2 linked regions of the Homo sapiens genome follow. The protein of the gene in region 2 purifies or fractionates together with the protein of the main gene of each other region. This does not show direct contact. Each region holds a gene or a part of one and is shown on either strand. Other genes may lie near its edges. The genes, in order: LIN28B and MTPAP.

The links.
Region 1: the proteins of MTPAP (region 2) and LIN28B purify together in Homo sapiens (co-immunoprecipitation; one large-scale study listed by IntAct). This does not show direct contact.

What each region holds. Positions count from the first base shown.
Region 1 is NC_000006.12:104,955,792-104,960,134, forward strand, and holds the start of LIN28B (protein lin-28 homolog B), read left to right. Parts: upstream 1-1,315; 5' UTR 1,316-1,459; coding exon 1,460-1,469; intron 1,470-2,307; coding exon 2,308-2,495; intron 2,496-4,343. UniProt on the Homo sapiens protein: Suppressor of microRNA (miRNA) biogenesis, including that of let-7 and possibly of miR107, miR-143 and miR-200c.
Region 2 is NC_000010.11:30,310,997-30,314,815, forward strand, and holds part of MTPAP (poly(A) RNA polymerase, mitochondrial precursor), read right to left. Parts: intron 2,976-3,819; coding exon 2,613-2,975; 3' UTR 1-2,612. UniProt on the Homo sapiens protein: Polymerase that creates the 3' poly(A) tail of mitochondrial transcripts. Can use all four nucleotides, but has higher activity with ATP and UTP (in vitro). Plays a role in replication-dependent histone mRNA degradation.

The sequences.
Region 1 (4,343 bases), on a different chromosome or scaffold from region 2:
TGGTGGTGCATTTTAAGGTTTTAAAATAGCGATATTTTATATTTTAAAGGAAATAAAGTCTTTTTAGTTAATCTATAATATTTATTATAGTATTCGATAAGGGCAGAAATACTGTTGCCAGCATCTTGTAATCAATCGTTTGAACCAGTTTGAAAGGTAAAGGGGGTAGGCATTTTGAAACTGGGGGTCAGTTGAGGAAGGACAGTAGGAGCTTCATCCGTTGTTACATTTTCGTTTATTCAACTCTTCTAGCCATTGGTAGTGGACTTTTAAAATGTCAGGGTACAAGTCAATATGATATGAATTTACCTTTTTTCTCCCACTTGTCCTTCTTTCTCCACCCCACCCCCTGCCCGCGCCGGCTTTTTTTCTCTCCCACCTCTTTCTTTGACTCTGCTGCCGCCTATCCTGGCGGCTCCTCTTCACCTCCCCTGCCTGGCGATCCCCTCCCCCTCCTGCCCTATGTCCTCCAGCTCTTGGGGAACAATCGCCACTGATTGAGGTTCACTCTATGTTAGGCTGGAAAACTGGGCTGTTATTTAGGAAGTCATTAATCACATCTCCTCCCCCGGAAAGAGATGGCAGAGAAACCTGTGAAGTACAATTCCTTACCAACCCCCTCTAAAATTTTCCAAAATGGTTTACCTAAACACAATTTGACTATATGAAGGTGAAAACGATTTTTCTAGTAGGATTTTATTTTAAATTTGAAAAAATTTCGGGCATAATCAGGTAATTTATGTGCCTCTGCCTTTTCCTAGGTGTATGTTTTCATTATCTAAAGTTTCATGGGGATGTAATTAGGTTTAATTAGATCTTTTATAAATTATATATTTTCCTCTAAGAATTGAATTAAATATGAAATTAGCGTTCCAAGCAGGTTTACTGCCATGGAATAGCTGAATTCTTAAGGGGAAAAAAAGCGTTAACATCGGTTGTTTTATTTAAACGACCCCCTCCCATGATTTTAGTCAGGCTTGTGTGTAAGGCACGCGTGTGCACATATATGACTGCCTTTTTTTCTAAATCTATGATTCACAAGGTCCCTCCATTGTGTTTAAGTAGAAGCACGAAATCAGCATTCTGATTTATCCTAAAGAAGCGTTCCAAATTGTCTTTAAGATAACATGTTTGAGTTTTTCGTGTTCATTCATAAATTATTTTGATGTCAGCATAGATGAAATGGCGATTGGTTATCTCTTCCTCTTGCCAGCCCCTTAAGGATACGAGGTGAAATTAGTAGCAAGAAAGCATGTAATTGACAAAGTCACGTGTGCTCAGGGGGCCAGAAACTGGAGAGAGGAGAGAAAAAAATCAAAAGAAGGAAAGCACATTAGACCATGCGAGCTAAATTTGTGATCGCACAAAATCAAGATGTTAGATTGATGCAGAAGATCACTCCGTTCCAAAGGGAAAGTTTTCATCTCACGAGTTTGGAGCTGAGGGCCCGTGGGGCAACATGGCCGAAGGTTAATTTTCTTTTCTATTGTTTTACTGTGAATTTCTTTCTTCTTTTCTCCTCCCCCTCCCCCTCTCCCACCCTTCTTAGACCGTCCCCCCCTTCCCCTTTTACCCCAATACTGGGCATTACCTCCCAACCCCCCATCACGCAGTGGGGCTTTCTGCAAACCTATTGTTATAGATCTCCAAAAATGTTTTGTACCGCCCACACTGATTCACAACTTGAAAAGCTTTCAGGGGGCTATTGTTTGAATTGTGTGAGTGTGATTAAGCGCAGTTTCAGTTAGTGATTCCAAGAAAACTTTTATACACCTGCCCCCTCCCCCATTCCACCCCAACTTTAATTGAAAGTTATGGGGGGGAGGGGAATGCACATTGCAAATAACGCTGGATTCAGTGCTGCCCCATGTGCCTTAACTAGTAGCTCTAAACCATCTTCACGATTTCTCTTTCCTCCTCGTGCCCGCCGGAGAGAATAGTTTCGCTGAAAATTTCTCTTTGTCAATGGGATCAGTATTAAATCAGCAATATACAAGTAAAGTATCGCATGCTGTAATGTAAAATGTGGCTGAAAAATGGAGTTAAATGAATAAGTACACGTATGTATAGAAACGTGGAAGTTGGTGTGATCGATAGAACAGTGTGGCTTCCCCCTCCCCCGCTTTCCTTTTAACCCTTTTCATTTTAAGTATTTTCTGTGGAGAAAAGAAATCAAACCATTAAAAAAAATTTTTTTTTTCTGTTACCCTTCCCCCCCAACCCCAGGCAGGCAATTTTTTTTTTTTAATCTTTGAATGCACATTGAATGGGAATACAGACTGACTTTTTTGTCCTGTTCCTTCTCAGGCGGGGCTAGCAAAGGTGGTGGAGAAGAGCCCGGGAAGCTGCCGGAGCCGGCAGAGGAGGAATCCCAGGTTTTGCGCGGAACTGGCCACTGTAAGTGGTTCAATGTGCGCATGGGATTTGGATTCATCTCCATGATAAACCGAGAGGGAAGCCCCTTGGATATTCCAGTCGATGTATTTGTACACCAAGTAAGCCAAACTTTTTTGTCCCCCTCTTCATCTTTTTCCATGTGGAGGAGCTGATCGGTAGTTATGCCAATAGACGTACGATAAGATGTCCTTCGGTATATTGAAAGACAAAATCTTCCCTGAAATCACTAGGTAGTCCAACGTTTAGGGTACGTGTATGGGCCTTTTCCTGGGTTTTCTGTCTAAAGAGAAAAGAAAATATTTGAAATTTCACTATATATATTAAGGTTGACGTTATTAGCATTTCCCCCTGCTTCATTCTACAGCGAAATAGTGTTCTTGTTGTTTCCGGTATTACCTATACAATATACTTTGTCGCCTGTATCTGGTGAATGGGTAGAAAAATGAAGAAACATGATCATTTTAAGGTTGAAAAAACAAAGCGAAACAGTTTGCTGTGGAAAGAAATGTATAGATTGCCTTATTTTAGACACCTCTAGTCACAGTAGCTCCCTTTATTATTTCATCGCTGCCTGTCCTGTAATCATTTTGTAGATTCAGATCAAAATAATTTGACTTCATAGTAAAATAAAATAGAACACTGTTGGCCTAATGTGGTTGTAAAGAAATGCGTGCAATAGAGGGATGCTTGATAAACATTTTAGAAATGTGCTCCGTGTAGTCATTGGTCTACGTATACTGTCTCTTTAAGAGACTGAACTCAAAAAAACATGTGGCCAGAGGCGGCTCTTGCTTGTGTGTTTAAAATGTGCTGGTCTGCTACTTGGGGTAAATTTCCACCTTTGCTCGTATTGTGTTGTAATTTTTAAAGATGTTTTAATACCAAACAGAATTTCATTGCTTCCCATTTTCAAAATTTTACCCAGGAAATAATGAATTAATACTTCTGCCTTTACTCCTCTCTACTGCTTAATCCCTTTATAGTAAAAAAGATACTTTTATGGAAGCCGGTTGTTTCCTCAAAAAAAGGTAAATATAAATTTTCTGTAGTTAGAAATAAAGAGGTTTACGACTAAAGAGGTTTATTTTGGCATGATAATCTAAGTTAAAAAGAATTGAATGAAAGGCTGTTAATACTACAGATTGACTGACAGATACATGGGTGAAATATTTGGTATATTTGCTTGAAAAGTATATATTTGATACTGTGTTGCATGTTCCTAGTAATATTTATACCCCCTTCCCTAAGGAATATCATCTTCAAATTAAATATATAAACAATAGAAACATATGAAACCATTCTGTTTTGATCTGTTGTCCTGTGGTGCTTGGTAGCTTCCTGACCTTGCTGTGTGGTGTGTGTTTTCCTTTCCTGAAGGCCTGGCCATCATTATTGGCTGTTTATATGTGGAAGGATCAGCATAATCTGTGAATTGAAACAGGGTTTAAGTACACAAATACAAGTCCACATACAGACTACTGGATTTTATGCTTCCTATTTTATAGTGCAAAATGAAGCTACATTTTCTGTTTTTTCCCCTCTAAGACTGGATGACAAAAATCATAGACAAATCCATTTTCTCTCAGGCTCTTTCTTCCACCTTTGAACCTTCTTTAGGTTGTTAAATTGTTTTTTATGATCTCATAAATTTGTTTTATAGATGAATGAAAAAAATAACCCTTCTTTGTCTGGTCACGCCTTTTTATAATTTGATTTTCTATGTTTACCTTCTAAAATATTCATCAAATGTTAAGATATTTTATTAACCAATGTTAATGTTTAGAACAACAAGACATTTGTGTTTATACTATTTAATGATTATATATTGATAAACATTCCTCTATTCACTGAATTAAAACATGTAGCTGCTGAAGTTTTTTAAATATATAGCTGTTTCTATACTATAAACATTGATTTTTAAATAGTTGACTTAATATTCAGTTACA
Region 2 (3,819 bases):
TACAAATTACCAAAAAGAAAAGAAAATGCTAACCCATACACATACTTTATGTGCTTAAATAACCATATTACACCTAGCACCAACCTAAAAAAGAAAATATCTGACTAAATATCTGTGAACAGAAAAAAAAATTTCATTTAGAAACCCTTAAGTGGTTTATGCTTTTTAAGCTTTTTAAATCAATATGGATTTCTAGCCCAACAAAATAAAGAACAAATGAAAAATGGCTTTTAAAGACATCGCCTGTACAGAACACTGATATTTGTTGGTGTCAAATGTGCAATCCAATAGCACAGACACAAGGACACAGAATTCATTTGCTTCATAACAATGCTGAGTTTCTTAAAATATCCCATGCAGAACCCATTATAATTTCTGACATAAAATTTAAATGGGAAAAATTTTTAAAGTACTACAAACTCTAAATCTGAATTTTGAGTAGCAAAAAAGGTAATTACATACCACAAACACCGAAAGGCAACAGTTAAAGAGAAGTAACATTTACTTCGCGCCAGGAAAATGCACTGACCTAGCATTTTCCTACATCCCTCGCTTAATCCTCACATTGATCTGATCATGATCCCCATTTTACAGATCAAACAGGGGCCCCAAGAGACTGAGTAACTTGTCATTGAGCCAGTCTCGCTCAAGTCTGTTTTTAAACACTATACTACTTGCTTCTTTTCCTTTGAGAGAGTCTCACTGTCGCCCAGGATGGAGTACAGTGCTGTGATCTCAGCTCACTGCAGCCTCTGCCTCCCAGGTTCAAGCAGTCCTTGTGCCTCGGCCTCCCAAGTACCTGGGACTACAGGCATGTGCCGCTATGCCCAGGCCTTACTTGCTTCTTAAATAGAAAGTTACTCCACAGAAGCCAGGTGCAGTGGCTCACGCCTGTAATTCCAACACTTTGGAAGGCCAAGGTGGGCGATCACCTGAGGTCAGGAGTTCGAGATCAGCCTGGCCAACATGGTGAAACCCTGTCCCTACTAAAACTACAAAAATTAGCTGGGCTTGGTGGTGGGCGCCTGTAATCCCAGCTGAGGCAGGAGAATCACTTGAATCCGGGAGGCGGAGGTTGCAGTGAGCTGAGATTGTGCCATTGCACCCCAGCCTGGGCAACAAGAGCAAAACTCCGTCTCAGAAACAAAACGAAACAAAGCAAAAAAGTTGCTCCACAGAGAATGTAATGGAAATTAAATTTCAATATACAGTTGCCCATTGAACAACATGGGTTTCAACTGCGAAGTCCATTTACACACAGATTTTTTCCAACCAAACTTGGATTGAAAATACAGTATTCTCGGCCAGGCATGGTGGCTCACGCTTGTAATCCCAGCACTTTGGGAGGTTGAGGTGGGCTGATCACGAGGTCGGGAGATCGAGACCATGGTGAAACCCTGTCTCTACTAAAAATACAAAAAAATTGTCCGGGCGTGGTGGCGGGCACCTATAGTCCCAGCTACTCAGAGAGGCTGAGGCAGGAGAATGGCGTGAACCTGGGAGGCAGAGCTTGCAGTGAGCCGAGATTGCGCCACTGCACTCTAGCCTGGGCGACAGAGCGAGACTCTGTCTCAAAAAAAAAAAAAAAAAAAAAAGAAAGAAAGAAAATACAGTACTTTCACAGGATGCAAAATCTGCTTATGTGCAAGGTGGAATTCTCCCATGCACGGGCTCCACAGGACTGAAGGAGTTCAGTGTGTGCAGATCTGGGTGTACGTGGATGGTCCTGGAACCAATTTTCTGCATATACTGAGAGACAAATATGTCTCTTTCCTGCAGGAAGAGGGGAGTTCTCAAAAGAGATGTGAAGGAATACTGGGAATATCACATTTTAGTTAGAAACAGAATTTTATTTTTGAAAATAGAAAAATCAAACAATATTTTTAAAATGCAATCTATTGATGTCATCATATTTGGTTTGGAATACCTAAGAATGCAGTGACTGAAATGTCTGTTCTAAAAACATAAACATTTTTTGATATCAGTACCAACCCACTTTAATTTATATGTGAATAAGAGAACTTCGCTTGAAAAATACAAATATACATATTCGAGAGCACTACCAAATTTTGAAGCTTAATGTATTCATTGCCAACGTACTGTACATAACTAAAAGTCATTTTAAATGTTTTCTAAACAGGGACTGATGTGGATATCAACAATGGTTTCATCCTAAAACTGAGTTTTAGCATTTGTTTAGTATATTTACCTATTTAGTTAAAGCACATTACAATAATCTTTCACCCATTCCTTGTGGCTTATGTTTATTTTCATTTTTTTTAGAGATGGAATCTTGCTATGTTGTCCACGATGGATTCAAAATCCTGGGCTCAAGAGATCCTCCTGCCTCAGCCTCCTGAGCAGCTGGGACTACAGGTGTGCACCGCCACACTCCACAGCTGATGTTTTAATAAAGTGCCACTGAGTATCAGACTGATCAAACTGAAAACATCCCAGAACTTCAGACCAGGTTAAGGGGGCCAATGAGAAGATCATGAAAAGTGACATCAGATGAAAGCTGAGATCTGTGAAAGTTTCAAATCAGTTTTTCCAAGTAAGTCCACAGACCATTTGATAGGCTAAGCCCAGTTCTTTACACAATGTAGCAGCCATCATGTCTGAGTACTAATTGTTCTCTTCCCACTGGTTTTTGTGAAATTTTCTGTTCTGTTACCTTTTAAAGATTCTAGCAAGTTTTTGACTGTTTCAATTGCAAACTTATTGCTTTTCTTCTTGGTAAAGGACTTTCTGTTTGGAGCAGATGGTAGCAATAGGGATACCAGCCCCCAGGGCCGATTACTTGATATGGAAGGTCGATCTGTATCTTCCTGTTGTAAAATCCAGGCACTTTCTCGGGCCAAATCTACAAATTTTTGCAGCTGGCTTTGACTTACATTTTTGCTTATGTTGAGAGAAGTTTCAAATGGATTCTGAATGTACAGAGGAGAAGAATCAGGTTTGTTTTGCTCCCTTCCCTATAGATTATTACACAGAAGAAAAAATGAGTAAGTACATGAAGGGCTTAAATATAAAAACAGTTAACTCAATAAAATGTCAAAACACATAAAACACCAGCATTAACTTTACATAGCAAAGAATTTCTTTCTCAGGGGATTGAGTATGTATGCATGGTGGGTGTGTGTACTTCTCATTTTTTGTTTTTTTTTTCCCTGTTGTAAGTTTTATGAGTGTTCTTTGGAGAAATAACTTAGGGCTTATCATCTATGGATGATGATGTCATTGCTCAGAGAAGAGGTATCTGGACTAACTCAACCGACAAAAGTATTTTTAAAATAATATAACTTTTACCTAACAAGGTAGAGCATGAAAGGGAAAAAAATGATTAAAAAATCAGAAAGTAAGATGAAGATACGTTTATTTCTGAGACTTGCTAAAAGCATACCTATTATGGTAGAAACAGGAACACACAAAATTAGAACCCTTAAATTAAATATATTAATTAATGTTTCCCAAGTATGAGATGAGGAAAAAGAGGAGGAACAAAGGATTATTCATTATTTATTTAAAACACTAAAAAGTTTCCATTATCTTCCTATAGATCCAACAAAAGGGCTCTGCCACATAAGATAGTATCTCACAGAAATAAAAAAGATAACTGTAATCCAAGCATTTTGGGAGGCCGAGGCAGGTGGAACACCTGAGGTCAGGAGTTCAAGACAGGCCTGACCAACATGGTGAAATCCCATCTCTACTAAAAATACAAAACTAGCCAGGTGTTGTGGCGCATGCCTGTAATCCCAGCTACTTAGGAGGCTGAGGCAGGAGAATCACTTGAACCCAGGAGGCGGAGGCTGCAGT